Regions from separate parts of the Homo sapiens genome. Here region 1 is linked to region 2. The links come from fine-mapping of genetic effects on plasma protein levels. Region 2 holds a variant in brackets. A gene starts in the other region. All regions are shown on their reverse strands.

What was found. A credible set is the group of variants that fine-mapping cannot tell apart. PIP is the chance, under the fine-mapping model, that this variant and not a neighbour inherited with it causes the effect. Protein levels are from antibody-based Olink assays in UK Biobank. Linkage for the fine-mapping came from a reference panel and not from the study's own genotypes, which makes the PIPs less certain.
Region 1: it holds the start of CBLN4, and the variant in region 2 is the best candidate, but not a certain one, in a credible set for the plasma level of the CBLN4 protein (UK Biobank, PIP 0.61).

The regions. Positions count from the first base shown.
Region 1 is chr20:56,002,502-56,012,249 of GRCh38, reverse strand. It overlaps CBLN4 (cerebellin 4 precursor), which reads left to right and starts at 6,731. Exons shown (of 3, transcript NM_080617.6): 1 at 6,731-8,369. The coding sequence starts at 8,079.
Region 2 is chr4:56,854,870-56,865,040 of GRCh38, reverse strand. No RefSeq gene overlaps it. Among named protein-coding and RNA genes, the nearest start is that of SPINK2, 38 kb to the right of the region's middle. RefSeq lists an enhancer at 4,787-4,856. The variant G/A (reference allele first, on the strand shown) is at 3,896.

The DNA of each region.
Region 1 (9,748 bases), not on the chromosome of region 2:
ATAAGCATTGATCTATCAGCAATGGCTGGCCCTGCAAACTCGGGTGTGATTATTTTCTGGGCATCTGAACCTGGATTGTCTCTCACACTTGGGTACACTTCGTTTTCCCCTATTATAATGTCTGTGAGGTTAAGTTGGGCCATTGCTTGCCAATAGTTAATGGGCCTTGGTTTAGAGTGTGGTGGTTTGACACCTTTAGTCATTAGTAGAGTCTACAGATTAATGATAATAATTGCTACCCTTAATTGAGCCTTTCCTGTGTGCCAGGTGCAGAGCTAAATGCTCTGCCCAAATTTCCCCACTCAGTTCTCACAAGAAGCTATGGACTGAATATGATTTTCATGATTGCAATTTTCTTGGATGAAGGAAGGTTTGTAACTTGCTGTATGGTCATAAAGCTAGTAGGAGGTAGAGCTGACTCTAAACACCCTGTTTTTAACCATAGAGCTAAAAAACCCGAATGCAAATGGACTCTTGTGGCATCACGCCAATGGCATCTACAAAGTCAAACACCATCTGCTTCAGATTTACCTGGGTGCTGGTTAAGTAAACCTTCCCAGTTCATGGGCAGAGCCATTATCTCAGAGTAAGGCCAGAGAGTCTCTGTTGGAAAGAAGCATCCCAGCTGATTCTTACAAGTAGCCATTGGTTTGGACCCCACATTTAGACTCTTCTTATCTACACAACATAAACACGAGTGGCCAGGCACATGTCATACACCCAGCACTGAGCTATGGCTTTCCTAGATGCTAACATACTATATAAAGAAAGCCAAGTTGAATAAAATGTAGCGAGAAATTTTGACAGCATGCATCAGTGTTACTAGTTGCAATGGAATTTTTTTTCTTAAATGTATACTGTGAGGCTTTCTATATCAGAGCATCTTTCTAAACTTGGAGTAAGTGATTTTTAGAGTCGGATCAGTATAACAAAAAAGGGAGATTGCTGTTCAATCAATGCCACTTTTTAAACTTTAATTAAGAGTAAACTATGGAGAAGAAGTGTGAATGTGATAGATCACTATTGGATGATCTACTCAGAAACCCTTTCTTTTTTAAAAAATATTTTAAATGTGGGCTGGGCGCGGTGGCTCACGCCTGTAATCCCAACACTTTGGGAGGCCGAGGCAGGAGGATTATGAGGTCAAGAGATCGAGACCATCCTGGCTAACATGGTGAAACCCCGTCTCTACTAAAAATACAAAAAAATTAGCCGGGCGTGGTGGTGGGCACCTGTAGTCCCAGCTACTTGGGAGACTGAGGCAGGAGAATGGCGTGAACCCGGGAGGCGGAGCTTGCAGTGAGCCAAGATCATGCCACTGCACTCCAGCCTGGGCAACAGAGCGAGACTGCACCTCAAAAAACAAAAAATTTTCAAACGTGAATCACAATGTAATACACAATTGCTGTGAGCACATATATAATAAGGAAACATCTGAAATACAATTAATAGTGTTTCCTTCTATTCAATTCCTTTAAATTTGACAAGTTGTTGCCAACTTGTATTCTCTGTGTATTGAAATACACACATATCTGTACACACTTGCAGGGAATTAACTTGGAATCACACAACACAAATTAGTCTGCCTCTTGTTCTTCTTCCCTTTGCCACATATTGCTTATATTAGCTTTCTAGGATTTTTCCTTTTCCCATGCCCCGCCCCAATTTTCTACACACCTCATTGCTGGGATATCAGTCACGTGTGCAGCATGATTCTGTTTCTACAGCCAAGTTGATTGGTTTGGGATTGGGCATCTGAACGCAGATGGCTGCAGTGCATCTCTTCTCGGGGATCTGGGGGCATCTCTGAGTGGATGGCTTTGTTATGTGTGAAATCTGGAAGTATCAGCTGCCATTTTCCCTCATGCGGGCCTCAGAGAACGGTAGATTGCAGTGAGCCAAAGAATAATGAAGATGTGCCCAGGAGAGGGGAAGAGAGGGAGGGACACAGAGAGAGCAGAGAGAGAGAGAGAGAGAGAGAGAGAGAGAGAGAGAGAGAGAGACAGTGGGGAGAGAGAAAGAGAGAGATGGGGGAGAGAGAGAGAAAGAGAGAGACGGGGAGAGAGAGAGAGACTGGAGAGAGAGAGGGAGAGGGAGGGAGGGAGAGAGAGAGAGAGAGAATTTTTTAGGTTCTTTCTAAGATTTTACTACAGTCTCAAGGTTCAACTCAACACATTTCAAGATGTGGCCCTTTCCACAAAACCTTTTCTCACTGGGCTTCCATTCTTAGTAACTAAGGTGGACTTGACGTTTTAAGCCCCCAACATTTCTGAAATAATTTTACTTTTCCTATCATACTTAGATCATAGTGATTAAATGTTATATTGTTTCCCTTATGAGAACTAAAAGCAATGATGTTACTTTATTCAGTAAACTTTATTTATGCATACCTACTCTCTGCTAAATTCTGTCCTCCCAAAGAGTTAATGGTCCAGGGAAAACACAACAATAAATCAACTAAAACCATTATGATAAATATAATGACTGGAACATGCTCAGGGTATCATGGGAAGCCAAAAAGGGGCATCAAAACCTGTCTGCAGCCATGACCAAGACGTCTCACTTCTCACTGATGTCTTAGACACGTACCTTATTTGCCAATGGGGTGAGTGGAATAAACTATCTAGAAAAACTGTCCCAAACAATTTTCAAATTCTAAAACCAATTGAGAAGTATTTTTTACAGCATCCATCTATTTTTTTCCCACAATACCATCCTCATATGAAACAAGTCTGTCATTTGGCTGTCTCCAGAAGGAGCTATGAAGATTTACTCAACATGACTCTGGAACTTTCCAGACTATGTAAGTTCTCACATATTGGTTGTTCATGGAGACTTTTTCTTCTTCTTCTTTTTTTCTAATATACTTTAAGTTTTAGGGTACATGTGCACAACGCGCAGGTTTGTTACATATGTATACATGTGCCATGTTGGTGTGCTGCACCCATTAACTCGTCATTTAACAGGTATATCTCCTAATGCTATCCCTCCAACCTCCCCCCACCCCACAACAGTCCCTGGTGTGTGATGTTCCCCTTCCTGTGTCCATGTGTTCTCATTGTTCAATTCCCAGCTATGAGTGAGAACATGCGGTGTTTGGTTTTCTGTCCTTGAGAGAGTTTGCTGAGAATGATGGTTTCCAGCTTCATCCATGTCCCTACAAAGGACATGAACTCATCCTTTTTTATGGCTGCATAGTATTCCATGGTGTATATGTGCCACATTTTCTTAATCCAGTCTATCATTGATGGACATTTGGGTTGGTTCCAAGTCTTTGCTATTGTGAATAGTGCTGCAATAAACATACATGTGCATGTGTCTTTATAGCAGCATGATTTATAATCCTTTGGGTATATACCCAGTAATGGGATGGCTGGGTCAAATGGTATTTCTAGTTCTAGATCCCTGAGGAATTGCCACACTGACTTCCACAATAGTTGAACTAGTTTACAGTCCCACCAAGACTTTTTCTTCTTAAGCTACTTACTCTCCCTCAAAAAAGATCATTAGCTTGGGCTGATAACTATCATTATAAAGAGCAAAGGGTAATTAAGCAACTCAGTGGAACTTTGTCTGGGTATGATGCAAGCCTCACTGCTCTCTCTCTCTCGATTTTCCATCTTCTGCACGACTGACCTGCGGCTGTCTCTGCTGCATGATGCATGGAGTCTGCTTTCATTCAACCACAGTGAGGCCCTTAGAGCTGAATACCTTGTGTGTGTCTGTCTTTGCCTTCTCAGAAACATTTTCTTCACAGTCAGAAAATAGCTCATAGATCCTTACTGTCTTGGGCTTGCTTGAAACTTGGTTTCTCTAAAGGATGGCTGGACAAGCAGTCATTGAATTTACTGACCTCAGAAGTATTGCTTTCCTATGCAAGGATAGTTTAGATTCTAATTTACTTTAAAGTTAAGCCCAGCTGCAGAGAACTGAAATGCATTTCTGCGTCATCTCTAAAGGTCTAGGAGAAAAAAAAAATCCTAGGCATCAAATACAATATGGGAATCTCAGAAAGGGAAAATATTTGGGTCACTGCTAGGTCTTCTAATAGCATATTTTCAACTGGAAAAATACAAGAAAAAGAAAAAGAAAAACAGATCTATGCTGTGGTTGGAGAGAAACTTAAACTTGATCTTGTTTCTTTTCTCCTGGGGATGCTGGGGCTGAAGTAGGGGGTGAGGAACAGGTGATGCCTCCTTTCCCAAAATGTTGGAAAAGCATTTCCTACAGGCAGGAGATTGGATTTGTTAGTCTTTTGGCAAGAGATCCATAGCCTTTTGTGGTATGGTTTCTGGGACAATGTTCTAATGAGGATTCTGGATGACAGGGAGCGGTATGTTACTAAAACTAGCTCAAGGGAATTGGGTTTTTATTTCAAAGACATAGGAGGATACCAAGAAACCCAAGGTTAGGAGAAAATGTTTCTGGAACTCTTGTAAGCAAGAGTTCAGAACTGGCGATTGACTATTCACTCCCTGTACTTCTTAGAAGTGCTCATGCTCCAGAATTGGCTTCTTTCTACAAGTGTGGCCAGTCCTCTGGTTTATTCCAATACCTCTTCTGCTTCAGCTTGCAGATGACTCCTACATGGCCACGTCAGTTTGGGAGACTACAAACCTTGTCTCTGCCACATGTAGTGCTTACTGGAAGCTATTTTGATGTCTCATTAAGATTGCAGAGAGAAAATCTGGCAGCCCCAAGTCATCTGGCCAAGTTGGACCATACAAATCTTGGACTTCTGGTATCAAATGCATTGATGGTCCTAGAACCCAGGGGCTATCCGTGTTTAATCAACTGTTGTGGGAAAAAGAGTCAGGACCCTCTGATTCACAATATAAGATAACTTCTCTTAGCGGGGGTCCACAGAAAATGCTGTGTTCCTTATCTTCAGAACACTTTGAAGAGCAGAACATCCTTTAGTAAGGAACCGAGACCCTTATCCCCAATTATTAAGGAGGCTTTGAATTTAAATTTTACTGAGAGAGACTCATTTAAAGCAGTTTATACTATAATATGAGTGATAATTACCTTCTATTAGGAAGCATTCAGTCATTTCTCAATTATTGAGTCTTTACTATGGTCACTATGCAGATTTTGGGACTAAAAATGAATATTTTTGGTGAGAGAAAGAATAGGTTTCTTCAAATCTCAGTTCTTGCGTGCAGGAAGTGCCTGGAGAAGAAAAGGAGGTAGAGAGAATATATTGGAATTGGTGAGGAAGATAGCTTATTTTCTATTTAACAATTCAACACAGTTTTTTTTTTTTTTTTTTTTTTTTTTTTGTCAAACTTCTCCCAGCCTGAAATTGAACAACCAAAGTTCTAGTTATTGAACAGCTGTCCCAGACAAGGAAGGCAGGGTGCTTACCCCTACAGGAAATAAAAGGAACTAAATTCAACTCAGCACCCACCCTCAAAAGACTGCATCAAATGAGAAGAAATTGCTGCTGTTAACCAGGCAGACATCCCTAAAATCTGGAAGAGAGTTACAAAGTGCAGAGAGGGATCAGGTGAAGATTGTGCTGGGCTTAGGGTGGGGCATCAAAGCTGGGTAAATGGTGGCCATCTTCAGAAGGCACTAGTTCACCTTGTTTGGTTGTAGCTTAGATAGGTAACTTTCAACATTTTAACAAATAGCATGGTACTAGCACCTGCCAGCCGGAACTGACACCGGCCTGTAGTCTCAGCTACTGGGGAGGCTGAGGTAGTAGAATCGCTTGAGCCCAGTAGTTTTGCATCTAGCCTGGGCAATATAGCGAGACCACCCCCCACCACAAGTAAAATAAAATCATAAAGTCAAAACACCTGATACTGGCCCCACTGGAGCAGAATCTGAAGGCCCCTGTGGCACCAAGTATTAACACTTTAGTTGAGAGATTATAGGGAGGTGAGGGTTAGGGGATTCCTCGTAGTGTCTTCAATTTTAACAGTTGGAGCTGGTGCTTATAGCTCAATGCCCGGCCCTTCTGAAGGAAGGGAAAAAGGCTGGAGACGAGGTTCACCTTGTTTTGTGGAGGGCTCGAATGCCACGCTCATGAGGGCGTCCTTCACTCAGGAAGGAATGGGAGCCGTCCATCCCAAGGACCTCCCTCAATAAACATCCCTTCCATTCATAACTAGCCAATGCCATTTTAGGAGCTCCGAATGCCTGGAGGGGATACTGTTTTGGTTAAAGATACCATACGTGTCTGCCCTCTGGCAGCTGGAAGTGTAGAAGAAATTGGGGAAGGGGCGCCATGACCCCACAGCATCACAGAATTGGAAAGCTGGCGGGATGGGGGTGGGGAGGACCTTAGTTAACGCCGCGCCCCCCTCTCAGAGAGGGTTAGTGACTCGGCCAAGTTCACGCAGCCGGGTCCAGACAGAGACAAACCTCCCTTCCCCGTGGTAGCTGCAGAAGAGGAAGGGAACTCTTGCAAATCAGAGGCCAAGATAGCAGTGGAGTGGCACGGGGGCGGAAAGCGCATCCAAAGGGGAGAAAAATGCTGTATTCCTAGGAGTGGGATTGTCTTTTATTTTTATTTTTATTTTTATTTTTTTATTGTTGTTGGCACGGTTTCGGAGGACTTATTCTTGCTGAGTTAACTCCCTCTCCCACTCTTTTTTTTGGCCATGCCTGGGGAGGATTCGCGGTGTGGGGGGAAGGCGCGCCCCTGCGGCTTCTGAGGCTCATCTTCCCGGAGCGGAAGGAAGGAATCAGGCACCTCCTCCCAGCCGCCCCCACGGGCTCTGGTCCGCCCCAAGGCTTCCCTGAGCTCGCCAGGCCCCAGGGCTGTGTGGGGCGGGCTCCCGGCCAGGCGCGGTCGGGACGCCCGCCGGTCCCCAGGTTCGGGGCAGCGCGCAGCGCGGGTCCGCGGCGGCTTATCCTTTTTCGCGACCCGGCCTGGCAGCGCCGCGCTCCGCTTGGAGGGCACTCGGCGGCAGAGTTCCGCGCTGGGAGGGGTGAGGGGACCAGCCGCCTCCTCTGCGGACTCAGATCGAGCAGGAGAGAGTGGGCGCGGAGCTGGGGCCAGCGCAGGGCCGTGGGCTCCTCTCTGGGCACGCATCCTTTACGCCACGGGCTTTCAGGGGCTGAGGGGCCTCGAACCTTGCCAATCACCAGTGCTGTGCGCCCCGCTTGCTTTGGGGTGCGTTAAACGTCAGGAGAGAGCTGCTCAGATGGGGTCACCAGACGCCTTCTCCCCCTTTTCTCGGAGCCCGCGGGTTGCGCGATAAGCCAACCCAGCCGGACGCTGCGCTCCTATAAATAGAGCGCGTGTGCCCGCTTCGCGCTCTCCGGGCTGCACGAGGGACGAGAAAGTTGTGCGCAGGGACTGGGGGCGGGCGGCCAGGCAGGAGAGGACCCCGCCGGACCAGCCGCCCTGAACGCTGCGCCCGGCGCCCTGGACCTGATCCTGCGAATCCGCGCTTTCGGTGCGAGGGACCTGGCTAGCCGCTGCCTCCCTCCCTACCTCTGGGTGACACCAGGTTTGGGGGATTTTTTTGACCAGGCGAAAGTGGGAGTCGCTGGCGTCCTGGCCATGAACACAGCCTCGCGTTCTTCTCAGCCTGGGAAGGACCTTCTGCCTCTGTAACTCGTCCCTGCCGCAAGCCAGACAGGACTGGCACCCGCGCCGCTGGGCACCCGCCACCCTTGTGGCTTCTCTTTGAGTCCCCTCTTTTTGTTCCTGCTCCGTGGTTTAGCTGGTGGTGCTTGAGTTTGGGGTGAGAATTTATTATTATTATTATTTTTTGCCTTGAGGTGTGAATGTGAGGGTTTGATGACTTTCAGATGTCTAGGAACCAGAGTGGGTGCAGGGGCCCCAGGCAGGGCTGATTCTTGGGCGGAGGAGAGTAGGGTAAAGGGTGCTGCATGAGCTCCTTAAAGGACAAAGGTAACAGAGCCAGCGAGAGAGCTCGAGGGGAGACTTTGACTTCAAGCCACAGAATTGGTGGAAGTGTGCGCGCCGCCGCCGCCGTCGCTCCTGCAGCGCTGTCGACCTAGCCGCTAGCATCTTCCCGAGCACCGGGATCCCGGGGTAGGAGGCGACGCGGGCGAGCACCAGCGCCAGCCGGCTGCGGCTGCCCACACGGCTCACCATGGGCTCCGGGCGCCGGGCGCTGTCCGCGGTGCCGGCCGTGCTGCTGGTCCTCACGCTGCCGGGGCTGCCCGTCTGGGCACAGAACGACACGGAGCCCATCGTGCTGGAGGGCAAGTGTCTGGTGGTGTGCGACTCGAACCCGGCCACGGACTCCAAGGGCTCCTCTTCCTCCCCGCTGGGGATATCGGTCCGGGCGGCCAACTCCAAGGTCGCCTTCTCGGCGGTGCGGAGCACCAACCACGAGCCATCCGAGATGAGCAACAAGACGCGCATCATTTACTTCGATCAGGTCAGACCCGGGGGGAAGCGAGCACCTAGGGGGTGGGCGGTCTCCAGGCACCTCAGCACGAGGCTGCCTGCCCAGGCTAAGCTGGTCCGATTGGGAAATGGGGAATCATGTAAAGCACTCGCCTTCCCAAATATGCCTGGGTCTGAAACTTCTACCGTCCCTCTTCCTACCCCTCTCACCAGCCCCGGCTCCCATTTCTTCCGGGCCCCTAAAAGAGGCTGCTGCGGCGGCGGGGGAGAGGCTTGGGAGCCCAGAGCCCGGCAGCGAGAGCTCAGGGCAAGTTTCGAGCAACAGGTCGGCGGGAGCCGAAGGGCACCTGGTCCCTGGACGTCGTTATCTCTTGGCCAGATCTTGGTGCCCTTGCTCAGACTCCTCTGCGGGTGCCGCTGAGGCTGCTCCCTGGGTACCTTTGCGGAACAGGATAAATGTTTGATTTGTTTCTCCCAGGTAGAGAAGCTTCTCTCCCAAGAGAGCCCCGGGCTTCCACACTCTTCAGAGATCGGGCAGGTGGCCGCGGAGGGCGGGGGCAGAGCCGGGGGTCAGATCTCGCCTGCAGGTTCCACTGTTCGTGTGCCAGGCACCGCTGGCACTGCCGCTGCCTCGGAGTAGGCAGCAAGCCCTTCTCCGGTACTTAGAGAAAAGTTGCGGAGGAGGGGAGGAAAAGGAATTTGGCAACTGCGCTGAGCTCCTGTAGGAAAGCGCTTGGGAGCCAGTTCTCCCTTCCCGGGCTCATGTCCTTTCAGAGAATTGCAAATAGCTGGGGAAAGACAGACTTTGAGGTTGATGAGAGTAGGGGAAGAGCTGACGGAAGCTGTAGCTGCTGTTTAGCGACCTGGTGCTCCGTGTTTGGCTTGATGAGAAACCCCAGGATATCAGCTTACCTTTAGCAAGGGGTCTTAAGGGAGAAAACTGTCCTCAGAGTTTTTAATTTCAGCCCCAACAGTATCCAGAGTCTTTTTAAATTCCAAATTCACAGTTCACAGTTGTATGCAAAGCTGCAATGTGCAGGGGGCACAGGTTAAGTGGTGTTGCAGGATGTGCCAGGGAAAGCACGAGGTGACATCTGTATTCCTTGCTTAATTTTTCCTAACTAATGCACTCTCCAGCTGGCCAAAGACAGAGAATGCCTCTCTAGGGGCTTAGTATTTGATAGACATAATTTTTAAAGAATTAAGTAGCTCCATTTGGGGTTTTGGTGCAGTATTTTCCATCTTGATGGAAATAAAGTCTAGCACCACCCCTAGTTTGTATTTCAATGCTTTAATTAAATGTTGGAATACTGTGGGCATTGCACTATCCTCTATACAGGGTGTTCCTTTCAATGACCTTTCCATCAATTAGAAGAGGAAAAGGGTTTGTTCTTCTTTTCAGTGAGCCTT
Region 2 (10,171 bases):
GGATCTAACTATGCACCTGTCTGGGAGTGGCAGGAAAGTTTGACTTCACTGAGCAGGAGACATTTGAACAGGTCTTAAAAAAGTGGTTCAGGCCGGGCGCAGTGGCTCACGCCTTTAATCCCAGTACTTTGGGAGGCCGAGGCAGGCGGATCACGAGGTCAGGAGATGGAGACCACGGTGAAACCCCATCTCTACTAAAAATACAAAAAATTAGCTGGGCGCGGTGGCAGGCGCCTGTAGTCCCAGCTACTCGGGAGGCTGAGGCAGGAGAATGGTGTGAACCCAGGAGGCGGAGCTTGCAGTGAGCCGAGATCGCACCACTGCACTCCAGCCTGGGCGACAGAGCAAGACTCTGTCTCAAAAAAAAAAAAAGTGGTTCAAAAGAGGAAAGTACTTAAGTAGAGGAAAGAAGGCAAAAGAAGTGAAGACAGATAAATGTAACAAAGAAAAAAAAATTAGGTATAAGCAGCAGTATAGCTGCTTTTCTTAAAAGTCTGTGCCACCAGTCAGGATCCTTTTGGCCGCAGATGGCAGAAGCCCACCTGGAGGAGAAACAAGGAAGAGTAGAGGTGCAAGTGGGTCCCAGGACTGCCTGAAATCCCACTGTGATGTCGCAGGAATCTGTTTATCTTAATTTTCCCCACTACTCTGCCTGTGTATGGGCTACATGGCCTCTGGGAGGCCCCAGGAAAGGAGTCTTTTTCTTTTTCTTTTTTTTTTTTCTTTTTTTTTGAGGAGTCTCTCTCTTGTTGCCCAGGCTGGAGTGCAATGGTGCAGTCTTGGCTCACCGCAGTCTCCTGGGTTCAAGCGATTCTCCTGTCTCAGTCTCCTGAGTAGCTGGGATTACAGGCGCCCGCCACCACACCTGGCTAATTTTTGTATATTTGGTAGAGACGGGGTTTTGCCATGTTGGCCAGGCTGGTTTCGAACTCCTGACCTCAGGTGATCCGCCCGCCTCGGCTTCCGAAAGTGCTGGGATTACAGGCATGAGCCATCACGCCCAGCCAGGAGTCTTTTTCTTTAAGTATGAATAGAAAAATTCCAGGAAATTATTCTGATTGGTCTAGATTGAGTCACAGGCCTTGTGGTGATAGTTGGAAGTTAGAGGTGCCCACAAGAACCCCTGACTTGAGTCAGAGTAGTACTACTTCCCCAAAAGAAGCAGGATGCTATTATTAATGGAAAAGAGGTGTGCTATGTAAATACTACAAACTGGTAGTATCTACTGTAGAAGTGGCTTCCAAATCTTTTTGACCTTGGTTCCCAGCAAGAAATGCATTTGATTATTAGGACTCGCTATACTAGCAGGCTAGGTTCCCTTGGAAGCAGATCTGGGCTGGGGAGTTACATGCAGCCTGTTCACTGGGGAGCACCCTAGGAGCAGCACCTGTCAGAGAGCAAGGGATGCAGGACTGGGCAGAGGGAGAGGTTGAACTGTGATGCTCTTACAACCCAGGGGGAGCCTCAATTGATCCCAGAGAGAGTTCTGAAGGTGGGTCATCAGTGGTGTCCCAAATTGAGGCAAGAGTAGGGTGGCCAATCATCCCAGTTTATCTAGTTTGCCCTGGGTTTTCAGGACATGGGACTTTCTGTTTTAAAGCCAGGAAAGTCCCAGGCAAACCAGGACAAGTTGGTCACTCTGGGAGGGCTGGGCCTTTGTACCTACCTTTCAAATTGGCCAGTCACTGGATGTGGGCTTTCCCTGGGAAGGGGTCCTGATCCTGGGTTTACTCAACTCTCTCAGACCATGGGCAGCTCCTGGGGAGGGATTGAATTCTGAGTAGTCAGCAGGCAGCATTCATGGGAGCTGGGGACTGTGTGCCTTAGTCCTGAAGGACAGACTCTGGGTAGTACATCACAGCATCTTCTGCAATCTGCAATATATAAAACTAACACTAGGCAGGGTGTGGTGGCTCATGCCTGTAATCCCAGCACTTTGGGAGGCCAAGGCGGGCAGATCACAAGGTCAGGAGATCGAGACCATCCTGGCCAACATGGTGAAACCTCGTCTCTACTAAAAGTACAAAAATTAGCTAGGCATGGTGGCGTGCGTCTCTAGTCCCAGCTACTCCGGAGGCTGAGGCAGGAGAATTGCTTGACCCCGGGAGGCAGAGGTTGCAGTGAGCTGAGATCCTGCCGCTGCACTCCAGCCTGGTGACAGAGCAAGACTCCATCTCAAACAACAACAACAACAACAACAACAACAAACCCTAAAATTAATATATATAAAACATATATATATATGTAAAATTATGTGTGCGTGGTGTGTGTATGTATATATGTATAAACTTATATAACTGTTTCAGGTAAAAAATATCTATTCTTGTTATATATGATGTACCTTGATATCTTCTTTTTTCTTTTCTTTTTCTTTTTCTTTTTTTTTTTAGATGGAGTTTCACTCTTGTTGCTCAGGCTGAATGAAGTACAATGACTTGATCTTGGCTCACTGCAACCTCTGCCTCCCAGGTTCAAGCGATTCTCCTTCCTCAGCTCCCGAGTAGCTGGAACTACAGTAGTGCGCCACCACGCCCGGCTAACTTTTTGTATTTTTAGTAAAGATGGGGTTTCACCATGTTGGCCAGGCTGGTCTCGAACTCCTGACCTCAGGTGATCCACCCACTTCGGTCTCCCAAAGTGCTGGGATTACAGGCGTGAACCACTGCGCCTGGCCCTTTTCTTTTTTTCTTTCTTTCTTTCTTTTTTTTTTTTGAGACAGGATCTCACTCTGTCACCCAGGCTGGAGTGCAATGGGGCAATCTCAGCTCACCGCCACCTCCACCTCCTGGGTTCAAGCGATTCTCCTGCCTCAGCCTCCCTAGTAGCTGGGATTACAGGCATGAGCCACCACACCCAGCTAATTTTGTATTTTTAGTAGAGATGGGGGGTCTCTCCATGTTAGTCAGGCTGGTCTCGAACTCCCGACCTCAGGTGATCCGCCCACCTTGGCCTCCCAAAGTGCCAGGATTACAGGCATGAGCCACCGCACCCAGCCATGGCTAGCTTCTTTTAAGAATTTTGGGCTGGGTGTGGTGTCTCACACCTGTAATCCCAGCACTTTGGGAGGCCAAGGCGGGTGGATCACCTGAGATCGGGAGTTCGAGACCAGCCTGACTAACATGGAGAGACCCCCATCTCTACTAAAAATACAAAATTAGCTGGGTGTGGTGGCACATGCCTGTAATCCCAGCTACTCGGGAGGCTGAGGCAGGAGAATCGCTTGAACCTGGGAGGCCGAAGTTGCCGTAAGCCGAGATCGCACCATTGTACTCCAGCCTGTGTAACAAGAGCAAAACTCCATCTCAAAAAAAAAAAGATCCTAGCCATAAGCCATGACTTGATTTCCCAATGCACAAACAGATTACAGTTCAGTTCTATGTGCATGGTGCCCTGTGGAGTTGTACAGGACAGCAGCTCAGAAGTGACCTTGCTCAGAGAGCCAGATTGCTCTCTCAGGTCAGCTACTCGTGAATATGCATCACTGACACAAAGCCTTCTGCATACCAGAGGCTATTGGCTCACTGCCACCACCTGCAAAGCTAATGGGGAAGACTCTTCTTTCTCTTCAAGTCTGAATGAATTGAAGTCTGGCCCAAAAGAAGGCAGAAGTATCTTGGGTTCTTAAGAACATAGAGTCAGGTACTTGATAGACTTGTGCTCTGAATGGTGTCCAGCAGGTTAATTTAGACTTCATGAAAATATTTCTTCAGTGCTTACTCTGTACTAGCATTTTAGGTGAACTATCTCATCTGATCATCAGAACAAACCTCTAAAGTAACTTAGTTACTAGTGCTGTCTCTGTTTTAGGGATGAGGAAATTAGGGACTGGAGATTTTAAATAACCTGCTGGAGTTCCTAAAGTTCAGTTTATGTAGATAGAGTTTACGAATGTCTA[G/A]CGATAGAGCCTGACATATTACTATATTTATTGAGTTGCCTGAATAAATGGGCAAATTTCAACTTGAAAGACTGGAAATAGGGATACAAAGCCAAAAATGGAAGAAAGAGCTTTATCCACCAGGCTGCAGATTTTTAGACAAGGGCAAAGTCAGGTCAGGAATCTATAAGACTGGGGTTTGGGTTTCATCTTTCTCTTTGACTAATCTTTATCTAAGTTGATTCATTTCAGTCTTTTTTTTTTTTTTTTTTTTTTGAGACAGGGTCTCATTCTGTTGCCCAGGCTGGAGTGCAGTGGCACAATCTCAGCTCACTGCAACCTCCGCTTCTTGGGTTCAAGCAATTCTTCTACCTCAGCCTCCTGAACAGCTGGGACTACAGGTGTGTGCCACCACGCCCTGCAATTTTTTTTTTTTTTTTGAGACCAGGTCTCGCTCTGTTGCCCAGGCTAGAGTGCAGTGGTGCAATCTCAGCTCACTGCAATCTCCACCTCCCCGATTCAAGCGATTCTCCTGCTTCAGCCTCCCAAGTAGCTGGGATTACAGGCATGTGCCACTACACCCAGCTAATTTTGGATTTTTAGTAGAGACGGGGTTTCTCCATGTTGGTCAGGCTGGTCCCGAACTGCCGACCTCAGGTGATCTGTCTGCCTTGGCCTCCCAAAGTTCTGGGATTACAGGCGTGAGCCACCGCGCCTGGCCTAATTTTTGTATTTTCAGTAGAGATGTGGGATTTAGCCATGTTAGCCAGGCTGGTCTTGAACTCCTGGCCTCAAGTGATCTGCCCCCCTCAGCCTCCCAAAGTGCTGGGATTACAGGCGTGAGCTACCGCACCTGGCCTAGTTTTCTTTTCTTTTTTATACTGTCGTTACCTTTGTTTTCCTTCTACAAATAACTTGTTTCAGAGGAACAATTGTTAAGAGTTCATTGTCCCTTCTGATCTTGGTATGATTAGCTTCTTTGTATCATTCAGGTCTCTGGTCAGATGCTACCAGCACAGAAAGCTCTTTCCCAACCACCTTTTCTAAAAGATCCTTCCGGCCTCTCTCTAACTCCTTTTATTCTTCTTTACTTTCCATCTAAGTACAGTAAGCCCTCTCTATCTGTGGGTTTCATATCTGTGAGTGTGACATCTGTGGATTCAACCAACCATGGATCGAAAATATTCAACGAGACAAAATAGGTGACTGCTGCTGTACAGACTGAATATGTATAGGCCTTTTTTCCCTTTGTCATATTGTCTAACAAGAGAGTATAAAAACTACTTATATAGCTAGGCGTAGTGGTTCACGCCTGTAATCCCAGCACTTTGGGAGGCCGAGGTGGTGGATCATGAGGTTAGGAGCTCAAGACCAGCCGGCTAAGATGGTGAAACCCTGTCTCTACTAAAAATACAAAGATTAGCTGGGCATGGTGGCAGGCACCTGTAATCCCAGCTACTCAGGAGGCAGAGAACTGCTTGAACCTGGGAGGCAGATGTTGCGGTACCGCACTGAAGCCTGTTGACAGAACCACGCTCTGTCTCAAAACAAAAAACAAACAAAAAAAAAACTGGCCGGGCACGGTGGCTCACTCCTGTAATCCCAGCAGTTTGGGAGGCTGAGGCGGGCAGATCACCTGAGGTCAGGAGTTCAAGACCAGCCTGGCCAACGTGGTGAAACCCTGTCTCTACTAAAAATAGAAAAATTAGCTGGGTGTAGTGGTGGGCGCCTGTAGTCCCAGCTACTCAGGAGGCTGAGGCAGGAGAATCACTTGAACCTGGGAGGCAGAGGTTGCAGTGAGCCGAAATCAGGTCACTGCACTCCAGCCTGGGCAATAGAGCATGACTCTGTCTCAAAAACAAAACAAAACAAAGCAAACAAACAAAAACACTACTTATATGCATTTACATTGTATTAGGTATTATAAGTACACTAGAGATCATTTAAAGCACACAAGAGGGTTGGGCAGACTGGCTTATGCCTGTCTTGGGAGGCTGAAGTTGGAGGATCACTTGAGGCCAGGAGTTTGAGACCAGCCTGGGGATCATCGCAATACCTTGTCTCTATAAAAAAATAAAAACAAAAATAACCCTGCATGGTGTCACATGCCTGTAGTCCTGGCTTCTTGGGAGGCTGAGGCAGGTGTTTAAGCCCAGGGATTTAAGGCTGTAGTGAGCTGTGTTTATGCCATTTCACTGCAGCCTGGGTGACATGGTGAGACCGTGTGTCAAAGAAAAACTCAAACTTTTTTTTATTAAGAAAAAAAGTATGCAGGAGGATGTGTGTAGGTTATATACAAGTACTATGCCATTTCATATAAGGATCTTGAGCATCTTTGGATTTTCTTATCCATGGGGGGGTCCTGGAACCAATCCTTCATGGATACCGAGGGACAGCTGTAATAATCAGTGCTTGAAATCTTATTATTTATTTGTCTGTTGCCTGTGTTACCCATTGTAAGGTGAGCTGAAGCTCATGCAGTGAGCCGAGATCGCGCCACTGCACTCCAGCCTGGGCAACAGAGCGAGACTCCGTCTCAAAAAAAAAAAAAAAAGTAGCTCCCAAGATTGTCCAGGGAGTCATGTTTCTTCCTTTCATCCAGGAAGGTTAAATGGCATGCAGTTCTAATGGGCCAGGTCTGGAAGTGATTTCATGTATATATATATATATATATAAAACTTCCCCCCACCCCCACTCTGTCGCACAGGATGGAATGCAGTGGTGTGATCACAGCTCACTCATTGCAGCCACAACCTCCTGGGCTCAAGTGATCCTCCTATCTCAGCTTCCTGAGTTGCTGGGACTACAGGCGCCTGCCAGCCACCATGCCCAGCTAATTTTTGTAATTGCTATAGAGACAAGGTCTTGCTATGTTGCCCATGTTAGTCTTGAACTCCTGGGTTCCAGCAATTCTCCTGCCTTGGCCTACCAAAGTACTGGGATTACAGGCATGAGCCACCACGCCTGGCTGTATATCATTTTTGACCACATTCTACTTGGCACATCCTAAGTTCAAGTGAAGTTGAGAAATACAGTCTAGCTGCGTGCCCAGAAGAAAAACAGATTTGGTGAATAGCTAGCCAATGTCTGCCACTATGGTTAAATTGGTCCCTGTTAGGTTTCTATAAATAAATAATTTGAATTAAAGTAAATCACTACTGTATATTTGTACTGTATAACATCTCAAAACCATTTGTTTCAGATAATTTCTAAAGTCTCTATGATAAAACCAGTTCCTATTTTTTGAGAGCTGCCTTTTATATTCTCTAGGGAGAGGAAAGAAAAGAGAAACTTGAACCTGATTTTGTAAAACATCTATTTGTATCTAAATTGCTTTACAAGATTGTGAAATGTTTCAATATAAGCTGCAGTTTTGACTTGATTACAAAACCTGTTAGAGTTGCCCCCAGAGGTATGGATTTTTCTCACAGAGGGGCTGTTGACACTGCAAAATACATTTCAGAGGGTTTGAAAATCTTACCACATTGAAAGGAATGGATTTTTAGAAAAATTCCAAATTCTAGTTTAGGTACAGGTGAAGCCAGTGGTCCCACTTAGATTGCCTTACCATAATGCTTCTTTTCTAACTTAATACTGGTCAAGACCATAAACTCCAGAAGAATGAGTTTTAGGCCATTGGTCAGAGGGGTAGAAAGGTGATAATATGAAATGAACTAACATTTACTGAGCCTTATTTGTCAGGACCATGCAAGACACCGTGCCCATAGTTGATTTTCTTTAATCCTCACTTCAACACTGACAGGAAGGTAGAGGAGGAGAGCATGCTCCCGGTCTTATTGGTGGAGACCCTATCTCTAGGAGGCTAATTTACTTGTGATCCCACAGCCAACAAGGGACAAACATGGATGTGGCTAAGGTTCATCTGACTCCAAAGCCCACGCTCTTGACTAGACTGGACTAAGCAGGAGAGTGAAAATGAAGAACTTGGGAAATGAGCTAGAGACTAACATTAACAATTTGTGGAACTCAGCTCCTCTGTCTTTTCTTTCCTAAAAATCCCCGAAGATGATTAATTCCTTTGTATCTCTGTTAGCCACTAGCCCTGTAGAAAGACTCAAGTCAGGTGTATGGTTAGAGCTTCAGATCCAACACGTATCAGCTTTCTGATCTTTCTCATCCCTTATCAAAATTGCCTTGCAAGGAGTTTTTCCAAACCAGCTGTCTGTGGGAGCAATTAAGTTCCAATCCTGATTCTGACGGTGAAGTTCTGGCTGCCCTGACCACACCTCCATGGGGAAAAAACTGAAACGGACAGATGAAGGGAGCAATTCCAAGAATAATTTTGGCACTTGATTTAAGACTGGAAAATAATTTTCCTTCTTATTTGGGCAAGGAAAATGCCTCAAGGACAGTAAGAGCCTGTGGGAGCGGTCCAGCGGAGAGCCCCTTTTCCTCTTCTCTTCTGCCAGGGCTCAGGTCTGTAAAACAGCTGAACTATTTGCCACCTTCCTGAGTTTTGCTCTCTGTAGTTTATAGTGCAGCTGGAAATATGTACATTATTTAAATAAAAAATTAAGCCAAATAGCAAGACTTTGGAGTGTTAGAAACAACAATATTTACAATACTTGTACAAGAATTAAACTGAAATTTCAATGTCATCTATAAGGTAAGTTTTTTGAACTCTAAGAATTTTATATTGACTGGGCACGGTGGCTCATGCCTGTAATCCCAGCACTTTGGGAGGCCAAGGTGGGTGGATCACCTGAGGTCAGGAGTTCGAGACCAGCCTGACCAACATGGCGAAATGCCCTCTCTACTAAAAATTCAAAAATTAGCCGGGCATGGTGGTGTAATCCCAACTACTCAGGAGGCTGAGGCAGGAGAATCGTTTGAACTCAGGAGGCGGAGGTTGCAGTGAGCTGAGATTGCGCCATTGCACTCCAGCCTCGGTGACAGAGCAAGACTCCATCTGGAAAAAAAAAAAAAAAAAAAAAAAGCTGACACTTAATGTACTGATATTTAATGATCTCCAGGTTGTATTGTTAAATTGTTAAGTGAAAAAAGGCAAATGCAGAACAGTGTGGAAAATATACACAAAAGTAACAGTAGAGAAAGGGGAGTGGAGAGAATATATATGTTTTTGCTTTATATACGTGTTGTGGTCTGAATGTTTGTGTCTCCCCCAACCCCCTTCTCCAAATTCATATATTGAAACCTAATCCCCAATGTAATGGTATTTGGAGGTAGGGCTTCTGGGTGGTGATTAAGTCATGAGGGTGGAGCCCTCATAATGGGATCAATGCCCTTATAAAAGTGGCCCCAGAGAGATTTTTTACTGCTTTCAGCCATGTGAGGACACAGCAAGATGGCTGGCTATGAACCAGGAAGTGGGTTCTCATCAAACACCTAATCTGGGCCAGGTGCTGGTAGCACACACCTGTAATCCCAGCACTTTGGGAGGCCGAGGCAAAAGGATTGATTGAGGCCAGGAGTTCAAGACCAGCCTGGACAACATGGTGAGACCTTGTCTCTACAAAAAAAACAAAAAATAAAAAATAAGTAACTGGTTGTAGTGGTATGTGCCTGTAGTCCCAGCTACTTGGGAGGCTGAGGTAGGAGGATACTTTGAGCCCAGGAGTTTGAGGCTGGAGTGAACCACGATCCTGCCAGTGCACTCCAGCCTGGGCAACAGAGTGAGACCTTGTCTCAAACAAACCAAACAAACAAATGAGAAAACACCTAATCTGCTGAACCTAGATTTTAGGTTTCCAAGCTCCCAGGACTGTGAGAAATAAATTTCTGTTGTTTATAAGTCCATGGGCTATAATATTTTGTTATAGCACCCATATGAACTAAGATAATGTATAAACTGTCTCTAAAAGGACATAGAGAAAATTGTAACATCAGTTATTTCCAGAGGAGAACTGGGTAGCTGGATTATAGGGGTGAGAGGGAAACTCTTTGTATGTTCTTTGCAGCTTTTGAGTTTGATACCATTCAACTATATTAAAAATTTAACAGATTTTTTTAAATTAAAAGGATTGAGAATTTAAAAACATAACAAAATAAGCATAACAAATAGTCTTGTTTTGTTTTTTAATAGAGACAGCATTTTGCCATGTTGCCCAGGCTGGTCTTGAACTCCTGGACTCAAGGGATTTGCCCACCTCAGCCTCCCAAAGTTGCTGAGATTACAGGCATGAGCCACCGCACCCAGCCACAGATAGTTTCTTTACTTTAATAATATGATGTATGTCTTCATTTTTTATTTTTAATTAAAATTTTTTTTAAGATTATTAGAGATGGGGTCTCACTATATTGACCAAGTTGGTCTTG